Regions from separate parts of the Homo sapiens genome. Here region 1 is linked to region 2. Evidence: fine-mapped expression QTL. A gene starts in region 2. The other region holds a variant in brackets. All regions are shown on one strand. Distances are between the middles of the regions.

Region 1 (15,121 bases), 120 kb after region 2:
AAACATTTAAACTGTTGCAGAAAAAGAGATGATTTTAAAAATTGCACTAACTCTATTGTAACAGCATTAATAGAAATTTTGAAAATGGAAGTGAGCTCTCAGAATTCCACAGCTACCAAATATCGACTTTTTATTCTTCCTATTTCTTGCTAGTTCATATACATATAAATACATCCACAATGCATAGTATAGATGTATTGTTGGGGCCGAGCATGGTGGCTCACGCCTGTAATCACAGCACTTTGGGAGGCTGAGGTGGGTGGATCACGAGGTCAGGAGTTCGAGACCAGCCTGGCCAACATAGTAAAACTCCGTCTCTACTAAAAATACAAAAAAAAAAAAATTAGCTGGGCATGGTGGTGCGCGCCTGTAGTCCTAGCTACTCAGGAGGTTGAGGAAGGAGAATCGTTTGAACCCAGGAAGTGAAGGTTGCAGTGAGCCAAGATTACACCACTGCACTCCAGCCTGGGAAACAGAGCAAGACTCTGTCTCAAAAGAAAGAAAGAAAGATGTATTGTTATGTAGTGTTGTATTTTGCTTTTTTGGTAAACATTAGCATTTTCATGTCATTCTATAGTGTTCACAATTATTTTATAACTGTTCATCAGGTTGGTATAGTACACTTGACTTAACCAATCTCTTTATTGTTTGAAGCCCATCTATATGTGTAACACGTTTCCTTCTTTCCTTCTTTCCTTCTTTCCTTCCTTCCTTCCTTCCTTCCTTCCTTCCTTCCTTCCTTCCTTCCTTCCTTCCTCCTTCCCTTATGGAAGAGAGGAAAGAAGGCAGATTATAAAGCGCTGGGAATGGAATTATTGAGGCAAAGATAATATTTTTAAGAAATTATTTATTGAGCTCTCTTTCAAAATTGGAAGGTATTATGTATTTTAGAAAAGTCAGATTTTGGAGTATGATTGAAAACTCAGGACAGACAGAATCCAATTACTAGGTCTCTTCATTGAAATTCTTTATTTGTGACACTTGGTTTTTTTTTTTTGGTCTTAGTGGCATGGAAGAAAGCAGAAGGTTGCTTCCCAGTCAACTTTAAAGAGTCTTTTGAGGAGTATTACTTGTGTGGCAAGTGGGCTATTGTGGGAATAAGGGCTTGTTAACTGAGTTAAGCAAACGAGTGATTGAATCTGCCCTGGCAGAGTATGATTTAGAGTAAGTATAGTCTTAGCCCCGCAGTGATGTCAGATGGACATCAGTTCAAGAAAATCTTCAACCCCAGTAAAACGAGGTTAAGCTTGTGTATTAATTTGCAGATACTTCTCTGGTTTAGGAATGACCTAAGGTTTATCTGCCTGCTTACATTAATCATTTAAGGACAGCTGCTGGAAGCACAGTGGTTTAATGGGGGATGCCAATCCTTCTGGAATAAACAAGGTCACCAGGTGCCAGGGAATAAGTTCAGCTGGAGCATTATTATCCTGCTCCTCCAAACTTTTTTTTAAGTTACATTCTTGAAGATAAGGGGCTATGATCTGGGACTCACAAAGTCTGAAGGTTTGATAGTCCAAAGTCCCTGAACTTTGTCACACAGATGGCTGAACTGCCATCAGGGAATTGAAATGAGATCATGATGCAGCAAATTCTTCTCTGTGTGCCACGGTCCCAGTACTTATTGAACGGTTTTGTAAACAGTATAAATATTAACTGTCTCTTGTGTGCCAAGCCTGAGTTAGGTAATACTGCAACAGTAATGACAGCCTCTGAAAGTGAGATTTAGTCAGGTAAATGATAAAAGGATTTCAGTTTTGTTATTTGCTTTTGATGGGCACGTGGAAATGTCTGCCTCCATGAAGAAACAGACAGGCACATTAGTTCTCTAAATACATCCATTCTCAACCTTGGCTGACTTCAGAATCCCCAAAATACTGGAAGCTAGGCTCTACCCACATCAATTGAATTTGAAATTTCTGTGTGTATGTGGGGTGGGGGTGGAAGGATTTCTGGAATTTTAAATCCTGACTCAGAATTGAGGGAGGATCACTGTTCTCATGCTACTGCAAAAAGTGTCTGAGACATAGATATAAATATAATTAATTCTGATTGTTAACTATATATGCGTGTTGTTTGTTTAATGTCATTGACATTGTGATTATTCACAGAAATCCTGCCCCTTCCCTTCTTAGCACTGGTTCCTTATCTGTAGCTCCCAATGTTTATTTCTCCTAAAGTTTCCCCCAAACCACATTGCAAATCTGGACAGTCACAGCCTATAATCTCTTTTACAGCACCAGATACAGTATCATTTAGTTACCACGAAAATTCTGACTCCTCTTGGATAAGGGAAAAGGCATAATCTCTGCCAATGTTGGAGGCCAAATGTGGAGTTCTCATAGCTCAGGGAGGCTGGAGGGACTCCAGGAAAAGCGAATATGAAGACTCAGAAAATCATGGCTATTAGAGTGGAAGGGACCTTAGTGCCTAGTCATCTCATTCATGGGCAAGGGAAATGAAAATATGGAGGTCAGTACTTATTCAAAATCACACGCAGCCAGTTAGTGGGATCGTTGGGTTGGGAGCTTAGGTCTCTCAGTTCCCTGTCACCGCGTGGAGGGGAGAGGATGGCATTTTGAGGAAAAGCAGAGTGGGCATGGGGCATGTCTCCCTCTTCCACCAGAGCAGCTTTGCTGAAATCTGCTTTGCATAAGAGACTTTTAGAAAGGGTTGAAAACCACAGCATGCTAGAGCATACCAATGGTTCTGGTTTCAGTCACCATAATTTTTGCAAGTTCTGCTAATCCAACAGAGCTTGTTTACAGAACATTTAGCAGAGAAGTTTCCAGTTTTTAAAAACAGAACACACACACACACACCCCTTTAGAGACTCCACCAAACCCTATTTCTAGAGATCATTGCTCCCTTTAACTCAATCCTTTTAACTTGTGAAAGGGCCAAACATCACCGCATTGTGGACACTCTAAAATGCAAAAAGTTAACCTTTTTATGCCCCTGTGCCAGGACATTTTTCTAGGTTCACAACAAATATCCTTGGTTTTTCACTGTAGGACCTCTCCAAAATTCTTTTTTTATATTATGTATAGGTATGCGAGTTTCTAGCTCCAAGCTTTCTGAAAACAAATCAATTGTAATAGCTTTCTATGTACTTTTTCTGGGTGCAGAGATTATATCATGTAATTCTTACAATAACCTAGTTATTTAAATTAGCTCCATTTTACAGGTGAGGCTGGGAGGATTGGTCCTCTGCCTAGGTCAAATATCTCATAAGAGGGGACTTAAACCTCAGTCCCTCTAATTCCAAAGCAGTAAACTCCATCCCATAAACAATCATTATAAATACATTATTTTGGCTGGGAGCAGTGGCTCACGCCTGTAATCCCAGCACTTTGGGAGTCTGAGGTGGGCAGATCACAAGGTCAGGAGTTCAAGACCAGCCTGGACAATACGATGAAACCCTGTCTCTACTAAAAATACAAAAAATTAGCCAGGCATGGTGGTGTGCGCCTGTAGTCCCAGCTACCCAGGAGGCTGAGGCAGAAGAATCACTTGAACCTGGGAAGCGGAGGTTGCAGTGAGCCAAGATCATGCCACTGCACTCCTGCCTGGGTGACAGAGCGAGACTCCATCTCAAAACAAAAACAGAAAATTATTTTTTAAAATTTGTCTTGAGGCTTATAATCTACAATAGCTAAACAATTATGAGATATGCATATAATTGCAGTCAATAACAATCATGTTTTAGAAAAGTAATGATACAGGAAAATGCATATGATACACCTTTAAGTGAAAAAAGCAGGAAACCCCCAATTTTATAAAAGCAAAAAATATATATGCACACATGTAAAAGAGTTGAGGAAAATGCATCAAAGCATCAAGGGTGTCTACCTCTGGCCTGATGGTATCACAAATGATGCTTTTTTTCCTTTATTATAATTATTTCCCAATTTTCTACAATAATCATTCAAGGCCAGTCATGGTGGATCATGCCTGTTAACCCAGCAGTTTGGTAGGTCGAGGCAGGAGGGTCCCTTGAGGCCAGGAGTTTGAGATCAGTCTGGACAGGGTAGTGAAACCCCATCTCCACAAACAAACAAAATTAGGTGGGCATGGTGGTGCGTACCCATAGTCCTAGTTACTCAAGAGGCTGAGGTGGGAGGATCACTCGGGCCCAGGAGTTCAAGTTAACAGTGAGCTATGATTGTGCCACTGCACTCCAGCCTGGGTGACAGAGCAAGAACCTGTCTCTAAAAATAAAATAATAATTCAACAAAAATTAGCAATAATATACTTTCCACAGTTGTTTAAACTCAAAACTTCTGCAATATGAATACCCTGAAGAGCTGGAAGTACTCTCATGTCAGGATGCTATGCCACGGTCAGAGCGGGGTAACACAGTCACGGTTGAGGATGAAAAAAGAAGCAAGACATTCGGAGAACTTCCCTCCCAAACGTGGATATTAGTCAGCAGACAGGATGAAATGTGACAGCACTCAGATTTGGCTTCTCACAAATATGCCTCCCCAGCTCCTGTTCACGTTACCACTGACAGACCCTGCAATTACACGGACAACAAGTTAGACGTGTGTGTTCAATACCAAATAACTATCAAAGGTTTTTTTGCCAAGTTGTTGAAAGTAGTAACAATAGAATAGTATTGACAACACTGTTTCACAGCCAGAGTACAGTAAGTTTTCACTTAACATTGTCTATAGATTGTATGGTAAATGCACCTGAGAGCAATAACTTTAGCGTACCCTGAGGATGACCCTGTATGACAGATGCACCTGAATGTGTGTTCTGAGCTAGGGAAACTGGGAATGGCCAGCTGGAGATTTGTTCCTTGTTTATGAGGAACATCTGAGCCCCCTTCCTGTCCCATGGAACATAGGCCATATAGGGGAATCGAGCCTCCGAGTTTCGGGTTGAATGAAGGTTGCCAGAGGGAGGTTGTCAGGGGGAGGATATTAAGTGAAAATGTTCCATAAACTGCATGCCTTTTGCAAGTGGTTGCAGTTCTCCTGCTCAGCCCTTCACCACTGGACTGTATATAGGGCACGTCTGTCCATCCTGCTGCCAATGGGCTCTGTCTTCTGTATGTAAGCCTCGGTGAAACGCCATGTCTTGTTTGCTGGCTCTGGGTCTCTTCTTTGGCCTCTTGAACCTGGTGCCATCCCCATGGGAGCTGATAGGGGTTCTGCACAACATAGATTCTTACAAACTGTGACTTCAAATGAAACGGCATATAGCAAAACCAGTTTTACCATAGGTTAATTGATAAAAACGAGAATTAAAAACATCACCAAACTTCTAAAGACGCCAACACTTCTAACATAATCCATGTGAGCTATACATACATTTAAGAAAGATTAGTTTTTAAAGGTAAAAATTATTTGCCCATTTTTGTTGAATTAGTAAGTGATGGTGGTCATAGTGGTGGTGAGTTAAATCAGGAAATAAATATTTGCAAAGCAAAAATCGTAAGAGTACCTCCTGCCACCACAAAGTTCAAAAAAAATCACCAATCGGTTGTCCTTTTTGAGCACTTTTGTACACATCATTTATTGTTGGGCATCTGTATGATTGTCATCTCCTTTATTAATTTTTATTTGACCATAGTTTATATTCATTCACTCATTCCTTTTCCAACCTGCTTATTCCAGTTCAGGATTGCGGGATGCCAGAGCTTATCTGGGTAGCTGACGGTGGGAACCAATCCTGGACTAGATACCAACCCATAGCAGGGCCACTCACACGCTTACTCTCTCATGTTGGTACCATGTATACATGTCAATGAACCTAACACGCACATATAGTAGAAAACTGGAGCACCTGGAGAAAACCCACACAGACATGGGGAGAACGTGTGGGGATGCTATGTCTTTTTTATTTGCCGCGTAAATTGCCCAGGATATTGAATGTGTAACAGGTTATTTAGTGATTGGGTGCCTAATAGGCACTTTAAACTTATCCACAGATCACCTGGTATCTTCTGCTGAATCTGTCCTTCCCCCATCTTCACTAACTCAGTAGAAGGCGTTACCTTTAACCATTCGCTTAACTTCCCATCTATAAAGTGGTTCTGGCATCTTCACTTCAGTTTTAGACTATAACTAAATACAATAGGCTGAGTGGCTAAGAAACAACAAAAATTTATTTCTCACAGTTTTGGAAGCTGGAAGTCCAAGATCACCGTGTCAGTGTGGTCACTTCCAGTGAGAGTCTTCTTCTTGTATCCTTATGTGGTGGGAAGAGAACTGGGATTTCTGGGGTCCCTTTTATGAGGGCACTAATTCCATTCCTGAG[G/T]TCTCTACTCTCCTGACCTAATTACCTCTCAAAGGCTCCACCTTCTAATACCATCACATTGGGGGTTAGGATTTCAATATACAGATTTTGAGGAGATACAAACATTCAGTCCATAACAGCTTTCTTATACCTCTGACCCTTCCTCGTATCAGCTATGCTTCTCGAATTTGTTCTGAATCCACCCACTTCTTTTTGTCTGTGCTGTAACCCCATTAGTCCATGCCAAATGCATCTGGACTGATACAGTTTTCCTTCCAACAGTTCTTCTTGCATTCACTCCTGCTTCTTATAATCTGTTTTCAGGTGAATGAATGAACATATATTTAATTATATAAAATACAGGTATTCTCTTATTGATCTGTTGTGTAATAGGCAGTGTAAATGACACATATTCTTCAATGCATTTTCAAACACTACTAAATTGTTTTGGGATGAAATGTATTAATTTCTACAAGCGAGTGACTGCTTACTTTCAGCAAGTGCTCCGCCTTGATTGTGAGAGGATTCCACAAAGTGCAATGTGGTGACAGGTGCAGAGAAACTGACAGTGGGGGACAGGATGGGAGCTGGGGGCAAGCCCAGGGAGGGGACTAGGAAAAGTCCAGAACAAGGAGGACAATGACGTAGTCAGGCAGCTAATGACCACCAACGGTCAGGTGTGCTTAGTGTGCAAAGCCCAGCAAAGGTTGATGCAGGAATGGGTGGTGGTTTCAGGAACAGCTGTCCATGAATGGCAGGGTCTAGGCCATTTAGTAGGTTGTAGGTAGAACTCTGGTTCAGGGAGAACAAGACAAAGCAAGACAGATGAACCCCCAAACTTGTAGGAAGTGGAGTGAGGCACAGGTTATTAAAACGGGAACTCAGACTCAATGAGAAGGAGGTCTCTGTAACTAGAACTGATGCACAAGACGGAGCCTGGGTCTGGAGGTAAAAGTGGAAGTCCAGCCTTGTGCCCTGGGGTCCCCAGTCAAGCTGCATTGCAGACAGCATATATGACTAGAAGCAAAGGCTAGGTTAGAAGCCTTTCTGTCTTTCTGCCCGAGGTCTGCGTGAATCCTGGAGCAGTGTTCTCGAAGCTGTGACAGCAAAATGGGAACACCCGGAGAACCAGAAGAACATACCAAAGCCTGAGCCCCACACCTGGGGATTCTGATGTAAGTATCACAAACTGGGTGGCTTCCAGGATTTTAAAAGCCCCCAGGTGGGTCTAATGTACAGCCCAGGCTGAGAGCCTTGGCCCTAGAAACCGGAGCCGAACTGAAACACAGGTGGAGGGGTCAGTAGTGTCACTCGTGGTGGGGAGGGACACTGAGGGGTACCTGGAAACCAGGCAGAGTCTGATAAATCCTATTCCAAAACAAATGGCTTTCATTTTTTTTGACGTCGTTAGAAAATATATTTGTTTAATTTTACCTGGATTTTATTTCATTATTTACAAGACGATTTTTATTCTTCTTTCATTTGGTAGACTAAGAGACTCTTAAACCCAAGGTTACGGCTTGAGGACAATATATGGCACTAATTATTTTGCTGGAAGCAATATTGCTTAGTGATTTAAAAGGCAGGCCCTAGAGTCAGACAGACCTGGGTTAAGATCCCAGCTTGATCACTTGTTAAATCTGTAAATGAGAAACGAGATTAAAGGTAGCAACTGCCTATCCGATGAGGTCTTTGTAAGGATTAAATGAGCTTATATATGTAAAGTACACAGCCTGGTAACTATAATATAATATAATATAATACAATACTCATTTATCACCTCCACATAATAGTACTAATTTTCTTAGCTGAAATCTTTCTTTAAAGTTTATGATTTTCATTTTTTTTAGTCTCACACTATCATATAGGTAACTTAATATACACTTCCACAACATTTACACTCTATAGTTTTGAATTAATTAGGTGCTTTTGATTGCAAACAACAGAAACCAGTTTTGATTTCCTTAAGTGGGGTGGGGCAAATGGTTGGGGAAGATATATGGGACACAATAACTACCAAGTCATGATAAAGCCAGGAACCATTCAGAGCCGCTCCAAATGGGAAGACAAATCTAAATCAGATGCAAAGTTTTCTAGCCCTATTGTCTCTCCTCCAAATTTCACATCTTTATAATTTGTTTGAGCCATCTGCAGACCAATCTAAAGGGAAAAAGACACTGGATGACGCATTAGTTTTCTATTGCTACATGACAAATTACCACAAATTTAGCAGTGAAAAGATACGCATTTATTATCAGCTCATCCTATGGGTGGGGAATCTGGGTATGGCTTCACTGGGTTCCCCACTCAGGTCTCAGCAGGCTGACTTCTTGTCTGGAGGTGCTCAATCCATTTTCAAGCCCATTCAGAACTCTGGTTGTCAGCAGAGGTCATTCAACTCCTTGTGGTTATAGGACAGAGGTCCCATTTTCTTGCTGACTGTTAGCTGGGGGTTGCTCTGAGCTCTTTGAGACCACTCTCAGGTCCTAACCATGTGGCTCTCCCACAGCATGGCCATGTGCTTCCTCAAAGCCATCAGGAAAAAGCTCTTAATCAGGCCCTTCCTCAAAACCATCACTTAAAGCTCTCTCCAGCCTGCTGCGATGGAGTCTTCTGTAATATCATGGAATCCCAGAAGTGACTAACCCTCTTTGGGAGGCCAAGGCAGGCGGATCACTTAAGGTCAGGAGTTTGAGACCAGCCTGGCCAACATGGTGAAACCCCATCTCTACTAAAAATACAAAAAAAATGTAGCTGGGTTTGGTGGTGTGCCTGTAATCCCAGTCACTCATGAGGCTGAGGCACGAGAATCGCTTGAACCTGGGAGGTGGAGCCAGGTGGCGCCAACTGCACTCCAGCCTGGGTGACAGAGCAAGACTCCCTCTCAAAAGAAAAAAAAAAGGAGAGAAAGAAGAAAAAAGAAGTGACTAACCCGTCATATTTGCAGGTGCTGCTTACACTTGAGGAGAGGGGATTATTTGGGACATGTACACCAGAAGGTGGGGATCTTGGAGGACAGTACTGAGTTGAATAGTGTCACCCCTAAATTCATGTCCACGTGGGACGTGTGAAAGTGACTTTGTTTGGGAATAGGATTTTTGTGGATGTGATTGAGTTAAGATGAGGTCATACTGGATTGGGGGTGTCTTTACAAGAAGGGGAAATTTGGGCAGAGAGAGACGCAGGGAAGAAGGCCGTGTGAAGACGGAGGCAGAGATGGGCTGCTGCCATGAGCCATGGAACACCAAGAATGCTGGCAACCCCTGGAAACTAAAAGAAGCAAGGTGGGATTCTCCTTAGAGCATCTGGAGGGAGCACAGCCCCACTGATGTCTTGATTTCAGATTTCTAGCCTCCAGAACTGTGAGAGAAGAAATTTCTGTTGTTGAAGCCGCTCAGTTTGTGATATGTTGTTACAGCAGCCCTAGGACAGGAAAACAGGGCCCACCTAGAATTCCACCCAATCCAGGTGATTTATGAGAATGAAGCCAAGGGGCACGGAAGCAGCGATTCCTCTGAAAGGGAGGCCCAGGGCAGACAATCTCTTGGTGATCTCGACAGATCATACGGTAGATCCCTACCACTTTTCAAATTTTGGTTTGCATGATTTTAATTTTTCTTCCTCTTCCTTTTCTTCTTTTCTTTTTTTCTTGAGACAGAGTCTCGCTCTATTGCCCAGGCTAGAGTGCAGTGGCATGATCTCCGCTCACTGCAACCTCCGCCTTGTGGGTTCAAGCAATTATTAACCCTCAGTGTACCAAGTACTTGGGAATACAGGCATGCCCCACCGTGCCGGGCTAAATTTTTTTTGGTATTTTTAGTAAAGATGGGGTTTCACCATGTTGGCCAGGCTGGTCTCAAACTCCTTACCTCAGGTGATCCACCTGCCTCAGCCTCCCAAAGTGCTGGGATTACAGGTGTGAGCCACCACACCCGGCCTCTTCTTTTTTATTTCAGAAAAAAAAAATCATATTTACTTAAGAGTTGTAAGAATAGCACATTGGACTCCTGCCTACCCTTCACAAAGATTTATCAACTGTTATTATTTTGCATGGTTTTCTGTTCAGAAACCATGGAAAGGATAAAGGCATTGAGTCAGAAAGACATGAATTGAATATCCACTATCACTGGTTTTGTGATTTTAGAAATGTTATTTTCAAACACCTTGAGCTTTTGTTTAATCACGTGATGCCCTTTCACAGAGCTGGCTGAGAGCACATAAGGCAGGCCCGGAAGGCACCCAGCAGAGAGACTGGCACACGTGGGTGCCTCATACATGTGTGATTTTCAATGCTTTACACTGATTTTCCCGACTTCTTTTTTTTTTTTTTTTTTTTTAAGACAAGGCCTCACTTAGTCTCCCAGGCTGGAGTGCAGTGGTACAATCACAGCTCACTACAGCCCTGACTTCTCCCGCTCAGGTAATCCTTGCACCTCAGCCTCCTATGTGGTTCGGATCACAGGCATGCACCACTAAACCTGGCTATGTTTTGTATTTTTTGGTAGAAACGGGCTTTCTCCATGTTGCTCAGACTGGTCTCAAACTCTTGAGCTCAGGCAATCTGCTCCTCTTGGTTTCCCAAAGGGCTGGGATTACAGGCATGAGCCAGTGCACCTGGCCAGTTTTCCTGATGTTTTAAACAAAAATTTCTTTACCTACTTCATTTGATAAGGACATCTCCTCAGGATTCCTTTTTCTCTGTCTATCCCAAGTGTCTCCAGGCCTCAGTCACCCCTGGAGGATAAATGGGACAGACCAGTACACACTCAGACCGACCTTTTGCTGGCCCAGTGCCTCTGCTTGCTCTCACAGCATCTCCAGTCCACCTGACAACAACTGGGTGTTCCCAGAAGGTGTTCCTCATGTGTACTATTGCGCTGGTGACCATGTGATGCTGCTGAACCTCACTACTCTTCTTCCCATCCCCCAGGCATGGCCGTCCTCTCTGCCTGTTGCCACTATACTTGGCTGGTCACTCCACAGTGTCCCACCAGCCACAGTGAATGTGCCATTGCTTTGGATTGCTTTGCTGAACACAAGTGTCCACTCTGACAGTGGCCAAGTGCCAAGGTCACACAGCGACCTTCAGGAATGTGGGGGACCCCCTGACAATGGGGCATCTGTGCCTAATGCCCCTGACAGTTTAGAGAAGCAGCTCTTTTTGTTTCTACTCACAGCTTTCTTCTCTGCAGATGCAGACATGGGTCTGAAGGTGAGGCTGGGTAGATCTGGTATAGTTATTGTCTTGTTATTAGGAGTCCCCACCCCACTTCAGTGGCTACTTAAAGGTCAAAGTACCTAGTGTCTTCTTTCCTAGGTTGAGTTTTCTCTAAATAGGCTCTTCACACCTCTCCTTACCCCAGGATCCCATTATCCCCTTCACCTGGCCTTGAGAAGTGCCAGATGTTTCTGCATGCCAGCAATAAACAGAACTAGTGTGTTCTCCGGAGGCTCCTTAGCAGCCACATCAACAGGCCTGTGAGGCTTCCCTATCCCCCTAGATCAATGAATGTGTCTGGAAGGGTCTGGACCCTACAGAGAACAGAAGGCTCAAGCCAAGATCTTTCATATCTATATCAAAGCATCTTTGAATTCCTTCCCTTCTCTTCATTTCCCCTTTTCTCTTTTTCTTTCTTTCTATATCTTTATCAAAATTTTAATTCAAAGGGTACATCTTTTTGAGTTTTCTTTCTTTTTAACCAAAGAAGAATGTCAGAATGATCGTAAGAAAAATAAAGTCGGCAGTAACACACAAAAAATCAACTGAGCAATCTATTTAGTTTAATTTATCATCTCAGTACTGATTAAAAATATTATGGTTGAAGAGAAACAAGTAGAGAAATTTTTCTTTCACGTAGTTAAAAATTTTTAGTGGCATAGGTGTTCCATCTATCATTTGAAATGCCCACACGGGGAATATTCAAAATCTAAAACTCCAACAGCAATGTAACTTAGTACTTAAAAAGAACTGTGTGTCAGAATACAGCATTATTGCCAGAGGGATATTCCAAGCAGATAAAAGTCAGGGTAAAGATAAAACAACCATTTCAATTGAACAAACGTGGAAAGATTTTAGTTCAATAGCTGTTTGTTGAGTAGCCTTCCCTGGGTTAGCTGCTAGGTTCTAGTATTGAAGAGTCAGAAATACTTAGGCTTCTTTTTTTTTTTTTTTTTTTTTTTTAATATTTTAGGCCAGGTGCAGTGGCTCACACCTGTAATCCCAGCACTTCGGGAGGCTGAGGCGGGTGGATCACCTGAGGTCAGGAGATCGAGATCAGCCTGGCCAACATGGCAAAACCCCGTCTCTACTAAAATACAAAATTAGCTGGGCATGGTGGTGCACACCTGTAATCCCAGCTACTTGGGAGGTTGAGGCAGGAGAATCACTGGAACTCAGGAGGCAGAGGTTGCAGTGAGCCAAGATTGTGCCACTGCACTCCAGCCTGGGTGACAGAGCGAGACTCCGTCTCAAACAACAACAACCAAAAAATGAATACGGAGAGAAAAGAAAATGCAATACTTCCAATTCAGTAGTGAATTTTTTTTTGTTTTGTTTTTTTTGCTGTTTTGTTTTTGAGACAGAGTCTCACTCTGTCACCCAGGCTGGAGTGCAGTAGCACAATCTTAGCTCACTGCAACCTCCACCTCCTGGTTTCAAGCCGCTTCTCCTGCTTCAGCCTCCTGAGTAGCCAGGATTACAGGCACGTGCCACCACACCCAGCTGATTTTTTTTTTTTTTTGTATTTTTAGTAGAGACGGAGTTTTGCCATGATGGGCAGGCTGGTCTCGAACTCCTGACCTCAAGTGATCCACCTGCCTTGGCCTCCCAAAGTGCTGGGACTGCAGGTGTGAGCCACCGCACCTGGCCTAGTGAAATATTTTGTACCAATTACAGGATAATCAGAAAACAGTGTTCCTCCTCCATGAGGGACCTTGTGAATTGTTTATATGGAAGAAAGGTACTCAAGTTGGCACTGTCTTAAAATATAATTTTATTGTATGTTGTACTATTATCAATGGCCAATTGGCTATATCTGTCAACTTTAGTCCATAAATTGAATAGTAGAATCTAGTTGCTGTTAAGTGAAGAATGCTGTGCTGTCGTTCTGTAAAGTAGATTCCTTTCGCATACGGGATTTGACAGCAATAACAAGGGGCACGTGAATGCTCTTGTGAGCATGCTCAGTGGAAGGCTCATGGGAGTCTGATTAAAGCTGAGAAAAGTGGGGAAACAATGATTAACTCACACAGGCTGGGAATTAATTATCTCCAACCAACACATTCAGTATCAAAGTGAGCCGATCTCACTCACTGTCAGACACTGCAGAGTGAGAAACAGATGATGGTTCTGTGGCAAACGTCCTTTTGCTGAATATTCTACCTACGGTGAGTGCAATGATTGAAAGATGAGTTCAAATACTGAGGCATTTATAGCATCCAGCTATTATTGTTGCTCCTCTGGTTCTTTCTGGGCTCAATGGACGTCTCTGATTTCAACAATTCCCTTTAACAATGTATAACAGACGATGTAATCTGAAGTTCTGTGGAACCATCCCAGGAACACACGGAGATTCTTGAAAACACCCCAAATGTGGCTCTTTAATTATCCGGCAGCATGTTGTTTAGTAGCAGATGAAATACCAAAAATCTTTGGAAGGAGAAATGTTTTCAGGACTATAAGGCTAAATTGGAAATGGAAATGCAAATTTGTTATGTTTAGAGTAAGTTTCATGGCTGGGGCTTTTAAAAAAAATTTTAAATCAACCTCATATTTGCTCTCCCAAAAAGATGGAAAGTCTCCCTCTTTATTTAAGTGTCTTATCTTTTCTAGTGAAAATTAAAATAACTATCATTTTACTAATCATTTATTTTCCCATTTAAAATAACTTCATGTCTCTACCAGATACAGTTTTTCTTGTACAGAGTGCTAGAGTGAAAGTCAAATTCACAATCTTGTGATCCACCCTTCTGGGCATCTAGGGAGAAAAAATAAACAACCAACAACATATAAAAACATACTGTGACATTAAAATTGTATGACTACAGGGAGGGTGTTGTGGGGGGTTACCTATTTTCCTAGTCACCTGTGAAGTCCTGGCATGTTAGGGCAGCCAGTGAGGGATCTTCATAAGAGGCTCCAGTGGATCTTCAGAAGGAAAAAAAAAAAAACAAGATATATGGGAGCTGCCTTGTAGCCTTAGGACTGAGACTTGTCAATAAGAAGCACAGGGAAAAAGACTATCTTTTACCCTTCCTACAAGATCCAGTATGGACAGGGAATTTATTCTTGGGAGCAGAGTGAAGATATCTTGGGAGCAGAGATAACTCAGCCCCCAGAGGTGTAATATTGAGTGAAGCACTATGTTATCACTTTTGTGTTTCATCTACATAATCTCAGTGCCTAGCCCACTACCCAGCAACTAATAGGCATTCAAAAATATTTTTTGAGTTACTTTATATTTTCTTTTTACCAAACTTCTAGGTAACTTGCCCAACTTTAAAGATGCAAAGGATCTGTGAGAAGCAAATTATAGCTGTTATGCTAGAAGCATGTTAAGAAACAGAAAGTAGGGCTACAGAATTTGGGAGTTGTGCTAGTCAGGATACATTAAGCAATACTGTGGTAACAAAAAACCACTAAAATATTAGAGACTTAACATAATAAAAATTCGTTTCTAACTCGTGGAAAGTTCAATGTAGATGTTTCTGGTCATGTCCTCTCGGGTTGTTCTCTTCCAGGTGGTGACACAGGGATCCAGGTTGTTTCCAACTAGTACCTTTGTCATCCCCTGTGCCACAATTGTCCTCCACTCTATGCTTTCCAAACAGCCAACCAGGAAGTGAAAAGAAAATGTGGAGAAGGCATACCCAC
Region 2 (15,121 bases):
ACTTAAAAAACATAATTTTAAAATCTGCAACAAGCAGATGAGATAATGTGTGGAGAGCATTTAACATAGACCTTGAAACATGGTGGTATCTATAATATTATCAAATGTTTACATCAGCATTAACTATGACTAAACGCCAACCTCTTGATAGCAAGAAGAAAAAACAAGGAAGCTCAACTAGTAAAACTGGGTATATTTGTTCAAGGCTCATGTGAACGAAAACACATAAATCATCTACTCATGTGATGAGTGTACTTGCCAGTTGTATAAGCACTGTGTTATAATTTGTTCTGTACTGAAAAGATAAATTATGGATGAGGCCACCTAATGATGGCTTCCTTGGAGAACCATGCCTGAATATTCATTAGTAGAAAAGAAACAAGAAGGCAGAGGAGGGAAGAGTATGCAAGAGAGTAAAGCAATGGGGATCAATGAGGTATGTGCAGAAGTATTGACCTGGTGAGAGACCAAGTTCCAGCATTAGAGTTACCTAAATTATATACAACCTCAAAAGCTTTGTTGAATGATTTCATTATTAAAATGGAATATTCCACAGGATGTATTATTTTACACTCAAATGGTGGCTCCTGGGGATTTTAACAATATAAACATGCTCCTGCCCCATACCAGACCTACTAAATTAGAATCCTTTAGCGTAGGATAGCTCCAAAGGATTCTGATGCCCACTTAGGTAAAGAATCCCTGCCAGAGTCACTTCATGGTAAAAATGACCTACAGAACAAAATATAAAGTATTTATCCTTGAAATATGCATTTAAGTAAATCAGCTTAGTATTTTCCTAAGTTAAAACTTCTCCCAACATGTACCCCTCTGAGTTCCACCACAGAATTTCTCTAAACGAATCCCTCACCTTTCACTTTTCCTTTCCTAAGCATATGGCCCCCAGTCTGCTCAGAGAATCATTTTCCCCACACTTTCTCATACATTTTTCTTTAAAAGTCCCACATATCTCCAGCTGCCCTATTCTATCTTTTAAAAATATTAATCCTACCCAACTAATATCTAATAATATCCTACAGAACAAAGCAACTATGAAAAAGTTCCATTAATATGCTATACAATAAACCAAGATTTATAAAAAATTGCTCTATTGCCTATTCTAATAAATATTCTAAGTAGATTTATCAAATGAAATTGAAAATCACTTTTTATAAAAGATTTCTTCCAAAAACATAAGAATTATGAACTGGGTCTATAAAAAGGTGATAAGCTAAGCTCCTTCAATTAAATCTTTACTTAGTGCTACTAAGTAGGTAACAAAGTGCTGGGCTGTGTGAAGGATACAAAGTATCGGAAAATCTCGGTGATTTATAAACAACTTTACCAGTACTGGGGTAGAAGAAAGGGGAATGGAGAAGATGGAAAGGGGTAACTAAATACCACTCAAAAGGTATCTCTTTTTGGGGGAGGAAGCCTGCTGTTTCAGTTTGTTTATGACTTTAGCCAAAAACAAAGCAATGCAAGTTAGTGTTCAAATAAGTTGTGCATTAACTTTTTACCCTTTCACAAACATCTGTATCAATTAAGGCATATTTCCAGCCTTTTCTATTTACCTTAATGCTCTTCAGAAATTTCAACCACATCAGATTTTGATTTGTGTTTCCACCAACAATGTGAAAGCCCCTGTTAACTAATAGCCTCTTCAAAAGTATTATCAAACATTTTCCATCTGTCAGTAGGTGAAACAGTATCTCATAGTTTTTATTTATAATATTTGTATTATGTGTGAGGTTGAATACCTTTACAGATGCTTACAAAACACTTGCATTTCCTTTTCTGAGAATTACTCTGTTCATGATCTTTGCCCACTTGATGGTTGGTCTTTTCCTAATTGGTTAGTAGGTACTTTATATAAAGGAAGTTAGACTCTTATTTATCATACAAATTGCAAATATTTCTACCAGTTCCTCCATTATCATGCTATTTTTATTTTACTTCCTTTTTGTATATATTTTATCTTCCTCAATCAAACTGCAAATCATGCCCATGAAAGATATCACATTTCTTTTCTATATCTCCAGGAAGAGTGCTTTTCAGATACTTCAGATTTCAAGATCAAATTTAAAAAGAGGAGAGACGAGTGTTTTGCAGCAGATGAATAAGTATGAACATTAATTATCACAGGGGCACCTACTTGGATTGTCTGTTTAATCCCATTACATGTGGTTACAGCAAGTACAACCAAGTTCTAATAATGAGATATAGTTTATTGAACAGGGAAGAACTAGATGAACCTTTCTCCAGTTTCCCAGGCTGGTATCATGAAAACTCAGAAGCTACTGGTGGCCATATTTTCCACTAAGAGGACTAGAAGTGGTCCTCTGCAGCAAGAGAAGGAATGAAGCAAACGCACAGAGAAGAAGAGAGAAACGATATGATGTGCCCTGCAGGCACTGGAGTCCCAGTCCTTGCATTCCACTGGACATTGGCTGCATTTGAACGATAAATTCCCTTTATAACAACTAGAATGGATTTCTATTACTTATGGCCAAAAGAGGCCTGTTTACCATACTACTATCATTTTATAAAGGAGCATTTGAACACCGAAACCTCAGAAAGAACATGACCTCAGATTTTTTAAAAGGATGATTTATTTAATGACAGCTATGTGCCAGGAACAGGTCTAAGTCCTTGAAATATAGTGTTAATCAAAAGAGACAAGATCAGCAGGGTGTGGTGGTTCATGCTTATGATCCCAGTGCTTTGAGGCACTGAGGCGAGAGAATCCCTTGAGATCAGGAGTTTGAGAGCAGCCTGGGCAACACACACAGCAAGACTCCATTTCTACAGAATTTTTTTTTTTTAATTAGCTCGGCATGGTAGTTGTTGCCTATAGTCCTAGCTACCAGGAGGCTGAGGTGGGAGGATCACTTGAGCCTAGGAGTTCCAGGCTGCAGTGAGCCGTGATCACACACACCACTGCACTCCAGCCTGGGGTGACCGAGTGAGATTCTATCTCAAAAACAAAAACAAAAAGAGACAAGATCATTGATATCACGGGGCTTATATTCTAGTGAGTATGGAGATTATAAAATAATATAAAAACATAATTTCAGATACTGATAAATGGTTTGAAGAAATTTTTAAGTAAAAAAGGTAATGGGATTGAGGGGGATGAGGCTAGTGTCATTCTGGAAGGATGGTTAGGTAGCAATGCTTGTCTGAAAAGATGATATTTGAACTACAACATGAAATGATGAAAAGTAGTCACTCATGTAATGATTTAGGAAGAGTTCCCAACAGAGTGAACATAGTGCAAAAGCCCTAAGTTAGGAGCAAGCCATGGCATTGATGAGGAACAAAATGAAGGGCAATGTAGATGAAATATAGCAAAAAGTGGAGGAAGAGGGTAAAGAAATGATAGATTTAAGAGGAAAAGATGTAAATTGGTGAAGGAGGGATTAAATCATGTACAAAACTAGCAAGCAGTAGAAAGGATCTGAAAATAACTTGAGCTTTATGAAATATTCATTATATTGTCTTTAATTCTCATTTTGCCTTGTATCAGTGATAACTCTGACAGATAGGCTTTTAGAAACTTCCATTCCCAAGTACTTAACACAATCCTAAAGTTAGCCAGAGATGAATATATTCCTAAGCAGAAAGTATCTCTTCTAGTACACTATATTAAAAAAAAAAAAAAAGGAAAAAAGGAAAAAAGAATTTTCGGATGAAAGCAAAGTCATCTTAAAGGAAAGAAGGAAAATAACCTAGGATGAAGGAAAAATAGAAACTAATTTTGTTCTGTTCATTACTCTGTGAATATACTTACTATGATAAAGATTATAGAAAGGTCTTTGAATTAGTCTATCATAATTAAGGAAGGTCATAAAACTTAAGTTCTTTCTAAACTACTATAAACGTAGCAGCCTCTGTTTACTGAGTTCATTATTATTGAATTGGACATTAACAAGGTTAAATACTGTCAGAAAAGAAAAAGTAGAAACCAGGCTTTTGACTTTATTACACCTGGTAATAATGGTCACAGCTTAATGGTTAACAAAGTTGTGGGCTTTAATCTTATCTATATGACTATGATAAAGGAAGAACTTCCCCTCTGCGGTGAAATGAACACTAAAATTAGCTACATGGGATGCTTCAATATCTTCTCCTCCAAAAGCTTTTTATAAGAGGAGACCAATTTGTTTAAAGGGTTTGGATATAGATACACTTCACAGAAGAGTGATGATCTTTCCAGATCCTTCCAGACAACTAATATCTGTGTACTCTAAGCAAGCAATTAAACCTACACTGCTTCTAAGATTAATGCAAGTAAAGTCGGATCTTTGAAAGCTATAATGTATTCAGGAATCTTATCTTTCATTATGTTAGAGGCATACTTAGACCACTTAACAGTAGACTGTTAATAACACAGTCTATAAAGAATGATACTTTGTAAGCATGCTGTGAGTTAAAGAAAGAAAAGTCATTAAACACCTTGATTGAGACTTGCTTCAGAGTGCATCCTCCTCAGCACACTACCCAGCAGTTTGACAAAGTGCCCAGGATTAGCAGCCAATGTATGTAAAGAAGGAATATGGTCAAGCCCAATTGTAAAGTCTCCCCCCAGTGGTCAGATACAAGTAACAGAAAAGGAGGAAAATCATTGCAGCTTCTGTGAGACTGAACAGGAAGACTAAACAAAACTGGTCCCTACAACAAAAAAATAAAATCTTTAATTCAATACTAGCACCATATCAGGAAAGAGATCTCTTGTGCTTATCTGCTCTTATATTTATAAATGTGAAGACTACTTTTCTAAAGAACCTACAGTTAAAACAAAACTAGCATAATTTTTCTCCGCCTAAGTTTTAAGGAATAACTGACATATTCCCAAACAGTTCAGTATTTATCAAATGGGTAAGTGTTCATTCTTCCTGAAATAAACATCAGCACATCACTTACATGGTTAACTATACTTACCTGAAGTAGAGTTCTGATTTAAAAAAAAAAAATCTAGTCACTCATCAAGTGAATCACTCTGGAAGGAAAAATTATTAACTATTATATACCTAATGTGAATTTTACAAGATACTCTTTTTCAAAAGTCACCTAGCAATAGGTAATTTATATTAGAGTGATGTCAAAAGTATAAATGCGTCCTCTTACCTCTTTTAATTTTATTTTCTGGCTGTTTTTTTACAATTAGCCTTTGACTAGCACTAATCCTGTATTATTTGTAACTCTCTCAGCAATAATATGATGCTACTCCATTTTTACAAAGCTCAGATGTCAAAAATATGAAAGACATTTAATTAAAATATCTGTTTTATTCTGCTAATCCATTATTAAGTAGTAAAGCATGTAAAGGGATAGTAAATATTCAAACAAGCAACTTCAATTTTAAAACAACTTTTTAAAAAGATAACACATAGAGTCACAGTTATGTCTTCTTGGTTATCTCAAGCTAAAAAGAGGGGGAGTGGGGAGAGAAAGAGAGAAGCAGGCTATGTAGTGCTCTGGAACAATTTCAGCCTAAAATGAGACTCAGAAGCAAACTGCTCCCTCAAATGTTTAAAAATATGATTCATTTTTAAAAATCCAACAGTTGGCCTAAAGAAAAAAAAAGATTCTGTCTTATATAGAGCTACTAGACTTGCTTAAACACCTTAATTTTTCCAGTGTTGATTTAACCTAGAATGCAAAATAATTCATTTTGACATTCCAGATGTCAAGAATTCGGTGGCATCAGTAAGGACACATACACACCTCTTTCATAAAGATGGTGTGCAGTCTCCATAGGACAAAATTGAGCAATTAAAAGTGTTACCATTTGTGTATTATGTAACCGTAGTCCAGAATGAAGGAAACATGGACCTTAAAGAGTAACACATCGTGCAAACACGCATTTAAACACCTATTTAAATATATGATAGATTTAAGGTACAAATGACCTCAAAATGACACAACCCACAAAAGTTCTTTGTTTACTGTTAACAAGGCCTCAGAAGACATAACTATAATCAGGCCTACTACCCACTACCCTATCATTGCACAGTAGATGCCTACAATAAGCAATATTACTTGAGGTCCGTTGCTATACCTATATACGGAAACTATATACCGCATTACTAAAAATGTTACTTCGCCTGGTATATTCGACCAACATAAGTTTACAAATGATTTGCAAAATTTCACGGGAAGAAATGGCTGCTAAATCATACTCCAATTGAAACGCATTTTAACGCACCCCAAACGTTCTCAGCTACACTACAAGACCACTTGTAATATACTTGAAGCACAAAGTAAAATTCCAACACTCTCCAAAGGCGTAGGAAAGAATAAAACGTGGCTAGCCTGACCTTACCCGGCTGTTTATAAGTAATGCGGAGAATTTTCTGAGCTTCCCCGGCAGTCTTCAATTCTCTCCCTCGCTTCACCCCCACCCCCTACACAGATGCACACCCAACTGATGGAAGTTTAACAAATGTAATCTCGAGCTGCAATCCCAGAAACTGGTAGGATTGAGAATAAACTCCCAGTAAAGTGTTAAAAAGTCCTTCTGCAAAAAAACATCTACCAACCAATCCACATCCTGTCACCACACGGTCGGATACCTCAATCGACTCCCCTGCTGACCCTCCACCCAGCCAAAATAAAAAAGCCCCAGCACCTATTTGGTTTCAGACAAACGTACCGAGAATCCGCGAGCACGATCTCAGCAGCGAACGCCCCCGCGGCAGCCTGTGCTCGGCCCACAGCCACTTTGGCCAAACAACTGGAGTCTCGTACCTCGGAAGTAGCGGCGGTAGTTGGAGAAAGCCTCCTCCCCTACCAACTCCGAGCTCGGGAGAGAACCGGGAGCCGGCGGAATCACCCCCTCTCGGGACAGACCCCGGAGGTGTCAGTCACAGCAACGCCGCCCCCAGGCCGGCTCTCCATTCAGGCTCCACCGCGACTCCCGCCGCAGAGGTGTAGGCACCCAAGCCCCGCGCCCGAAGGGGCCCCGCGCGTCTGCGGCCCTAGCCCCAGTCGGGGCCGCGCCGGGGAGCGCGTGGGGAGCGGCGGCAAGCAGCATGGGCCAGACACGTTGCCGAGCTCCGGCCCGCCCAGCCGCCCGCAGCCAGAGAGGCAGGAGCCCGGCCGAGCGCCCCTTCCGCGCGGGCCGGGCTGGGGGCGGCCAGCAGCCTCCCCGACCGCGGCGCCGCCGCCGCCGCCTGCCGGTCCCTCTTCCCCGCGCCCGCCGAAGCCCAGGTGCCGAGGGGGGCGGGGCGGGCCAGGGTCCCCGCGTGGCGCGCCGCGCCGAGCAACAGGGCGCCCCCGGCCGGCCCGGCGCGCGGCGCGACCGTTACCCGAGCGGCGTGGGGGTCCAGTTAACTCACCGGCTCGCACCTCAGCCGCCTCCGCGCCGCCGCTGCCGCCGCTCCCGGTCGCTCCCCGCCGCCGCTGCTCTCCCTCAGCCACAGGCGCCGCCGAGCAGCCCCATCTGCAAACTCGTGGCTCGTAGTTGAGAACTGGAAATGCGTCTCTCACTGCCCTCCGCCTCCCTCTCTCTCCTCCCCCTCCCTCGCTCCCCACTCTGCCCCAGCTCCGGTCGCCCCCGCCGCTGCCTCCGCGCGCGCAGCCAGCCGCGCCTCAGCCGCCCTCCTCCTCCTCCTCCTCCTCCTCCTCCTCCTCCAGCCGCCGCCGCCGCCGCCGCTTGGGCGCGCTCCCAGCCGGCCTCGCGCGTGCGCCGGACGTCGGGGAGCGCGCGCTCGGGCGCGAGGAGGTGCCACCGCCTCCGGAAAGCCGGGCCCCGCCCCTCCCGCCGCGGCTGGGCGCCCAGGTGGAGCCCCCTCCCAGCTTCTGAGCGCCCAGACTGACTGCGCTCTGCGCCCGGCCGGCTCGCTTCAGGGGTCCCGGACCTGCGCCCGCGAGAGAGGGCTGGTCGGACCCAGTCCCCGCCGGGTCTCCTGGGCCGAAGTCGCAGCTGTCTGTCAGCATTTACGGGTGGGCAAGATACTCCTCGGGGCATAAAACAGGCTCCGCCCTGACCTTTCTGAGAGTTTTACATTCAAGAACCCAGTCGTGGGGCACAAAAGAGAAATGGAACGAGAAGAAAAGCCTCTGGAAAAATCTCCCCCTCCCCCTTCACAGACTCCACTGGATCTGATGTGTATTTGGCAGGTTCTACGGCGCTGACTGTGTCCTTCATTAATTTTTTCCCAAAGGCCCGACCGGGCAGTGTGATTCACACCCGAGGAAATGCATGGACACTGGCTCTTTTCATAGCACCGAGGCTCCCGTGGAACTCCCTGGGTCGGCTTTGCCAGACACTCCCTGGACACAGTTGTTCAGCTCCTCCCCAGCACCTGGGCTTCCCAGACCTCAAAAGGGTGGGGTTGGGGAGGGCATGCCATCCTTTCAGCCTGGACTCTGCGTAGAGCTTGGTGAACTGTGATGAGTGTCCGGATGTGTAGATGACACATTTTGACAGAAGTGCAGATTTAATTTTTCAGTTGAAAGGAACTGAGCAATGCACTGCAGCAGAGACTTCTGGCTAGAAAAACATAGCAAGGCAGCCAGAGAACTTCCGATCCCCTTAAAAGAGCTCTGTGAACCCTCAGACCTGTGACAGGCGGCTTTTGGAAAAACTATTGTGTTCTTCCTAAAATTGAAGAATGTAATTTACATTTTACAAAATGCTTACTGCAATCTTTTCAAACCATGAACGTAGAAAGTGCAAGTCAAACTTTACGTGTGAGGAGTGTTATGAGGTGGCCTCCTCTGTGCAGCCTTTCCTGGCTTCTCTTGGGCACCTTGCACAAACCAGACCATTAATAAGTGTTTGCAGAATAAATGCGTGCATCATGGCCCTTTGGATTCAGAGATGAAGTTATAAGTTGTATTGTCTCCTCTCTTTGTGAATGTGGCAGGCATGGAAGGGAGAGAGAAAATACTATTGATGAGATGTATTAAGAAGGTCCAGTGTCCAAAACAGTGATTTTTGTGTTTATCCTCAACCAAGCATCAAAGATTAATTTACTTTTCCATTAGGATCATTAATTTTGCAAACCAACATGCAGGGGGGCCTTGTACAGTGTTAATTTAGAACCTTCTTTCCTGGAACCACAAACCCAGGCAAAGGTAATTGGAAGCATTTAAGGAGACTCAAACGTGCCCAGGGCACAGAGTAGCTTTGGGCCCCCTGTAGTCAGGATGGCTGGATGAAATGAAGTGGAGTGGGCTCGGAGCCCAAGGCAGAGACAAAGCGGAAGGATGGGGTTTGTCTTCTCGGGGTGTCAGCAAGACCTTTCAGGTCCTTCTTGCTGCCCCAGGCCCACTTGCTTCTCACAGGACACCCATGGGTCCTCCCTGCTGTACCCTACCCAGGCTTGTGAACTCTTTTCCCTTCTGACTCTTAACCTTAACACATCCCCTTGGACCCAGCCACTTAGTTACTTGCCCTGAGCTTCTCTGGGGTTGGGGTGGGAGGTAGGGTATGAATGTCATTTCCAGATATGTTAGTGATCCTTAATAGTGCACTTTTATTTCCTCAAGGGTCTTCTGGAAACAATGTCCTAACCTACTCTACCCCTGCTCCCTGCAAGTAGAATGATGTTAACTGAGGAAGTTTTAGGGAGGGAGGGTTTGGGGTAGGCTCTGCCCCTCAAATTACATGCAGACCTACCTGACTTAAAGCTGGCACCACTCCTGGCCAACTGCTTTATCTCTGCATCTACCAGAGACCCAGCATTTGGGAGCAGGAATACAGGAACAATTATCTTTCATTTGCAGTTCCAAGTCTGTGCTCTAAGTAATGACAGCAGCTATCAGATGGAGGCTTATCACTGCCGTAAGACTCAGCTTCATTCTTAGAGTCAGAAAAATGATTTTGCTCCAATAACTGTCTTTGATTGCTCCCCTTCAGAAAGCTCTTGCCGGTGAAGTTCCTCTCTCAGTGTCAGATGAGTATTGTATCAAATACTCATATACAGTTATAAAAGGAAACACTATTTCCTTTTATAAATGATATTCCCATTTTATAACATTCTGCCCTTCCTCTAAACTTTAAAGGTGGGACATGCCAGGATAAATTTAAAGTGTTCTCAGTTAAACATTGGAACTCCCATCATTGGTTCCCAACTCAGCTTTCTGAGAGGTCATCATACTGAGACACCACCATCCATTTCCCATACCGGTTACAAATTCTTCATTCCAAGAAAGGGGAATGATATGATTGAGAATGATGGTGGATCTTTCTCTTCAGTGTCCTTAATAGTCTGACTTTTCATTTCCTTCAAGGTTACTCTAAAGGGATCATAATTTTACCACAGCCCAGTATCTCCCAACGGTAATTCAATTTAAAATTTGAATTTTGATTCTTAATTCAGGAGCATCCATCACTCAATTTTGTTTCCTCCTTCAAATGTAAACAACATACACTTTTAATGTGATTACATTTTCTTTTCTCTTCTGACCTGCTTTGCTCCTACAGAAATTGAGAATTTTGCTAATAGCCCCGAATTTTAGCAAAAGCAAATCCTGTGTACTTGTTTTTCAACTAATCCATCATAGTAAAAGCAGTGACACTCCTGGAGGATAGCTTTATTTAAAAATGCAACTGGCATGCATCACAAAGTCCAACCAAGTTTTCCTTCAGAATACTTTATTTAGCTTCACTCCTTTTATCTCTGCTCACAAAGCTAGGTCAGATTCCAATTTCCAGCCTCCTTGCTAACCTTTCTAATTCTAGCCTCTCTCTTGCTTCCTTGCAATTTATCCTATACTCAGAGCAGTGCTTCTTAATTTTTGGCTCTTTATTGAAATCACCCAGAGAACTTTAAGAAACAAAACAAAGCACTGATGCTTTGATGCCATCCCAGACTTAATTGCTCTGGAGCACAGCCTGGGTGCCAGGATTTTTTCAGAGCTCTCCAGATAACTCTAATACGCAGCCAGAGTTAAGAACTATGGAAATGAATCATCTTCCAAACAACATTTATACCAAATCTTCACAACAGTGGGGTAGCTCCAAATTACCTCGAGTAATCAAATTAAAATTCCTAATCCTGTGCTTTAAGACTCTTTGCCAATTGACTAGAATAGTCCCCTTTCAAAACAGCTTAAATTTATCTCCTTCCTAAAGCTTCTCCAGATTAGTCTCACCTGGCTGCCTGAAGATCACCGTTCCCAGCTCTGAGCATCCCGACTGGCACTGGTTTACAAACCGCTGGACCTCAGTTGATTGTGTACATTATTGTTTTAATCTTGCTTTCATAGATATTTGTCAGAGGCTTTTCTTATAATCTAAATCTTTCCAAAAGTCCCACTGGGTCAACTGTCTCAAACAGAAATGTCTTAGCAGAACTTTCTCCTCTAAACTAGCTGTCTGAAAAAACATTTCCTGATACGATGGCAGTTCTTTTTTTTTTTTTAATCATCACAATTAAAGCCAAACATTATAAGAACTTGAGTTTTGGGGTTGTTTGGTTTTTCCTTAAAAAAGAAAACTATATATCTCAGCATATCTCCTTGACTTTTCTTACCATTATTTGTTTATTTTAGGCATTGGAATTGGGCTTCCACACCCACTTCTCTGCTGAAACTACTATTTCCATCACAATTAACATTTTCATTCATGTGTTCATCCATTCAGTCACTCATTTACTAGTGAAGCATAATGAAAATAAAAAAATTAACAATATCAAGTAGTCCCTACCTAATGGCGAAGAATAATAAGCAAAATATTACATAATAAGTGCTATGCCAGGTGTCTTAATAGTATATGACAGAATTAGTGGGGAAGGTCTTTGCTTAGTGTTCATGCCATTGAACTTCTCTGCAGTGTTTGAGGAGGTTAATCTCTCGTACTCTCACTCTCTAAACCTCTCTTTTCCTTTAACTTCTCTGATACCATACCACCTGGGAGCTCTTTCGACCTCTCTGACTGTTCCATCTCTGACCCTTACTTTGCTGTGTTATCTCCTCCTACTTCCTAAAGAAAAATGTTCCACTAAGAATGAAATAAATTTTTGAGGAGAAACTTAAAAAGAGCAGATAGTACTGTTTATCTTGAGAATCCCAGGGATCCTTAGGACTCTAGCACCAATGCTTCCACATCTGTATCTATTCTCCCTTGAGGCATATTTTCAACTCGCTGTTGAAAATTTCCATCTAGATAAGCTATTCACGGGGTTGCTCCTGCTGGTTTTTCTGGCACCTTCCTTTCCTTTACCTCCTTTTACCATCTCCTGAACAAACACATACTCAAATCCCTTGCAGCCCACTTTCTCAAAATTATAGGAATGGATTCTCTTGTTTATTTGCTTTAGTCCTACAGAGTCTCCTAACTCATCTCCCTGCCTCAGGGCCTCCTTGCCCTGACTGCCAGGTGCCAGTCATTTTATCCCTGTCTCCTTACTGCCTACGGGACCCCATTTACAAGGTCATTCACAATGACAGTCAAAGCTTCCCTGTTTGGATATTCTAGTTAGTCATATCTTGTATCTTTATGTTTCTACCCCTGTTTTTGCCTTCTGCCATCTCTGCTGGCCAAAATCCAAGCATGTGTGCTCATCTCACACCCTCCTTTTCCATGAAACCCTTTCTGCCTCACCTCAAACAGAGGTACAGTAGTCCCCCAGTCCCCCCTTATTCATGGTTTCACTTTCCAAGGTTTCAGTTTTCCTCAGTACAGTATGATAAGATATTTTGAGAAAGAGAGACACTATGTTCACGTAACTTTTATGAAGGTATATTGTTATAATTGTTCTATTTTATTATTAGTTATTGTTAATCTCTTAACGTGCCTAATGTATAAATTAAAAACTTTATCATAGGTATGTATGTCTACAAACCATAGTACATATATATATATATATATATATATATATAAAATATGTACAGTGCAGTACTATCCATGGTTTCAGGTATTCACTGGGGGGCTTGGAATGGATGCCCTCTTGGATAAGAAGGGACTAGTGTAATTGCTCTCCTTTGAACTCCTGTAGCACTTTAATTGCATCTTATGGCTCCTTTCCTATTCTGCTTCATAAAAGCATCATTTATGTTTTCAAATATTTATCTTTGCATTCTTTTTACCGCCACTCAGCCCCATCCCCTTCTTTCTTGCAGGTAAAATCCAGGGTGATGTGTACAGGAATGCCTGTAGCACTTGGCATAGTACTGCACATAGTAGCTGCTCATTTATTGAAACAGATAAACCTGTTAGTTGGTAGACTTCTAAAATTAAATAAAATTAAGTGAAAAATGTTGCTAATTACAATTGAACACTTGTTCCAGAATATGCAAGTTACAGATGAAAAGCTCTTAGAAAGACAATCAGATTTCAAGCAGTGACCTTAATTGAGCTTGACTTTATCTCACCAGGAGCCAGCATCTATATGTAATTAACCCTTTTAGATACTCATTTAAAATCGGCCTCTAAATTCTACCTCTCCCATTATATATATGAACTGAAAAAAAAATCCTTCTACTCAAGTATCAAAAAGAAGATTAAAAAGACATAGGAAAACAGGAAAAACCTTTCTTAAAAATTTGTAAAAATATATAGTGTCAGTATAGTGTGTACCTTTCCCCATTGAAAACACAGACAGGCACGAAGTCCTGGAGGGCAGTGGAGGTCTTCTGGAAGAATCTTCTGGCATGACAGGCAAAAAGGGTGTCAATGGTGATTAAACATAAAAACAAAGGGTCAAACTGTGAGGCCGATGCTCCTCCAAAGGACTGAGGAGAAGTCGTGAGGGTAAGAGCAAGTCATTAAGATGCATAGTAGGCTCTTAAGACATTTTTGGTAAATAAATGAATGAAAGATGGATAGGATAAGGGACGTGGAAGCAATGATGGAAGTCGGGGTGTATGTGTATGAGTCGGGGCAGCCATGGCAAGCTGTTTTGGCTGTTAACAATCTGGGAAGTTAATGGCCCATTTTAAAGCAATGCCATCTTCATGCTAGGAAGTACAGGGCATTTAGTTTTTCCTTAAAATATCAGCTGTTTATAAATATGAAAGACCAAGTCTTTTTAAAAAATCCTGCTTTGGTAATAATAGCGAATGACAACTATCTATTGAGCTCATGCCTGTGTGGCAGACACTGGTGTATAACCTTCATATGGAGCATCCCATGGGGATCATTACTATTACTCCCATTTTTCAGATGAGAAAACAAGTGAAGAGGAGTTAATGGCTCAGGCTTCAGAACCAGGAAGTGTTTAAAGAAGCTCTGCTGCAAAACTCCTGCTCATTCCCACACTTCATACACAGAGTGCTTTGTAACTTTCAGGTCAATTCAACTGGAATGAATTATAGTACGAGTTACTACAATTAGAGGTTCTCTGTAGCATGTTATTTAACTCAGATTCACCACCACGATCTACAGACTTACTGTATGTGTGTATTTTAACAATGTAGCATTTGTGGAAAGGCTATCTATTTTGCATTAGATTCTGGTGGGACTACTAATCACCATATCCTCCCCATATTCTTAAATTACAAGAGTGGCCATGTGACCCAGGCCTGGCCAATAAGAGTGCCCCATCCCTTCAGCCATAGGGATTAGTGCAAGAAGTAGACATGTTACCTAAATAAAGAAAATTTTGGATTTTTCTGTACTGCAGTAGGAAGAAAGATAATTTGTTTTTTTTTTCTCTTTTCAAATCAACACTTTGAGAATCTCAAAAAAGGGAAGATTTAGTCATGCCTGAGGCCAGCCTTAATTCTAGACTTTTCTGGTTACATAAATTCATGAGACCTTTTTAAATTTAAGATAATTTGAGTTGAGTTTCCATCACTTGTCACCAATAGAGTTCTGACTTATAGATGATTTATTTGGGGCAGAAGCTATACCTTTATGAAATGCTAAGTCACAGTCTAATCAATACAAGTTGACGATCCATTATCTGAAATGCTTGGGACCAAAAGTGTTTCAGATTTCAGATTTTTTGGGATTTGGGAATATTTGCAAATACGTAATGAGATATCTTGGGGATGGGACCCAAGTCTGAACATGAAATTTATTTATGTTTCACATACACCTTATACACATAGTCTGAGGTAATTTTATATGATATTTAAAATAATTTTATGCATAAAATAACATTTGTGTTAAGTACTTATATGTGGAATTTTTCACTTGTAGCATCATGTTGGCATTGAGGAA

The links. PIP is the estimated chance that this variant, and not a neighbour inherited with it, causes the effect.
Region 1: its variant is the best candidate, but not a certain one, in a credible set for the expression of PALS2 in whole blood (INTERVAL, PIP 0.62).

What each region holds. Positions count from the first base shown.
Region 1 is chr7:24,443,573-24,458,693 of GRCh38, reverse strand. It overlaps LOC107986777 (a long non-coding RNA gene), which reads left to right and starts at 13,556. Exons shown (of 4, transcript XR_001745132.2): 1 at 13,556-13,635. RefSeq lists an enhancer at 2,487-2,536. The variant G/T (reference allele first, on the strand shown) is at 6,271.
Region 2 is chr7:24,565,816-24,580,936 of GRCh38, reverse strand. It overlaps PALS2 (protein associated with LIN7 2, MAGUK p55 family member), which reads right to left and starts at 7,485. Exons shown (of 12, transcript NM_001303037.2): 1 at 7,344-7,485. RefSeq lists enhancers at 4,284-4,785, 6,617-6,736, 6,787-6,836, 6,782-7,281, 8,147-8,246 and 1 more and a silencer at 6,937-8,006.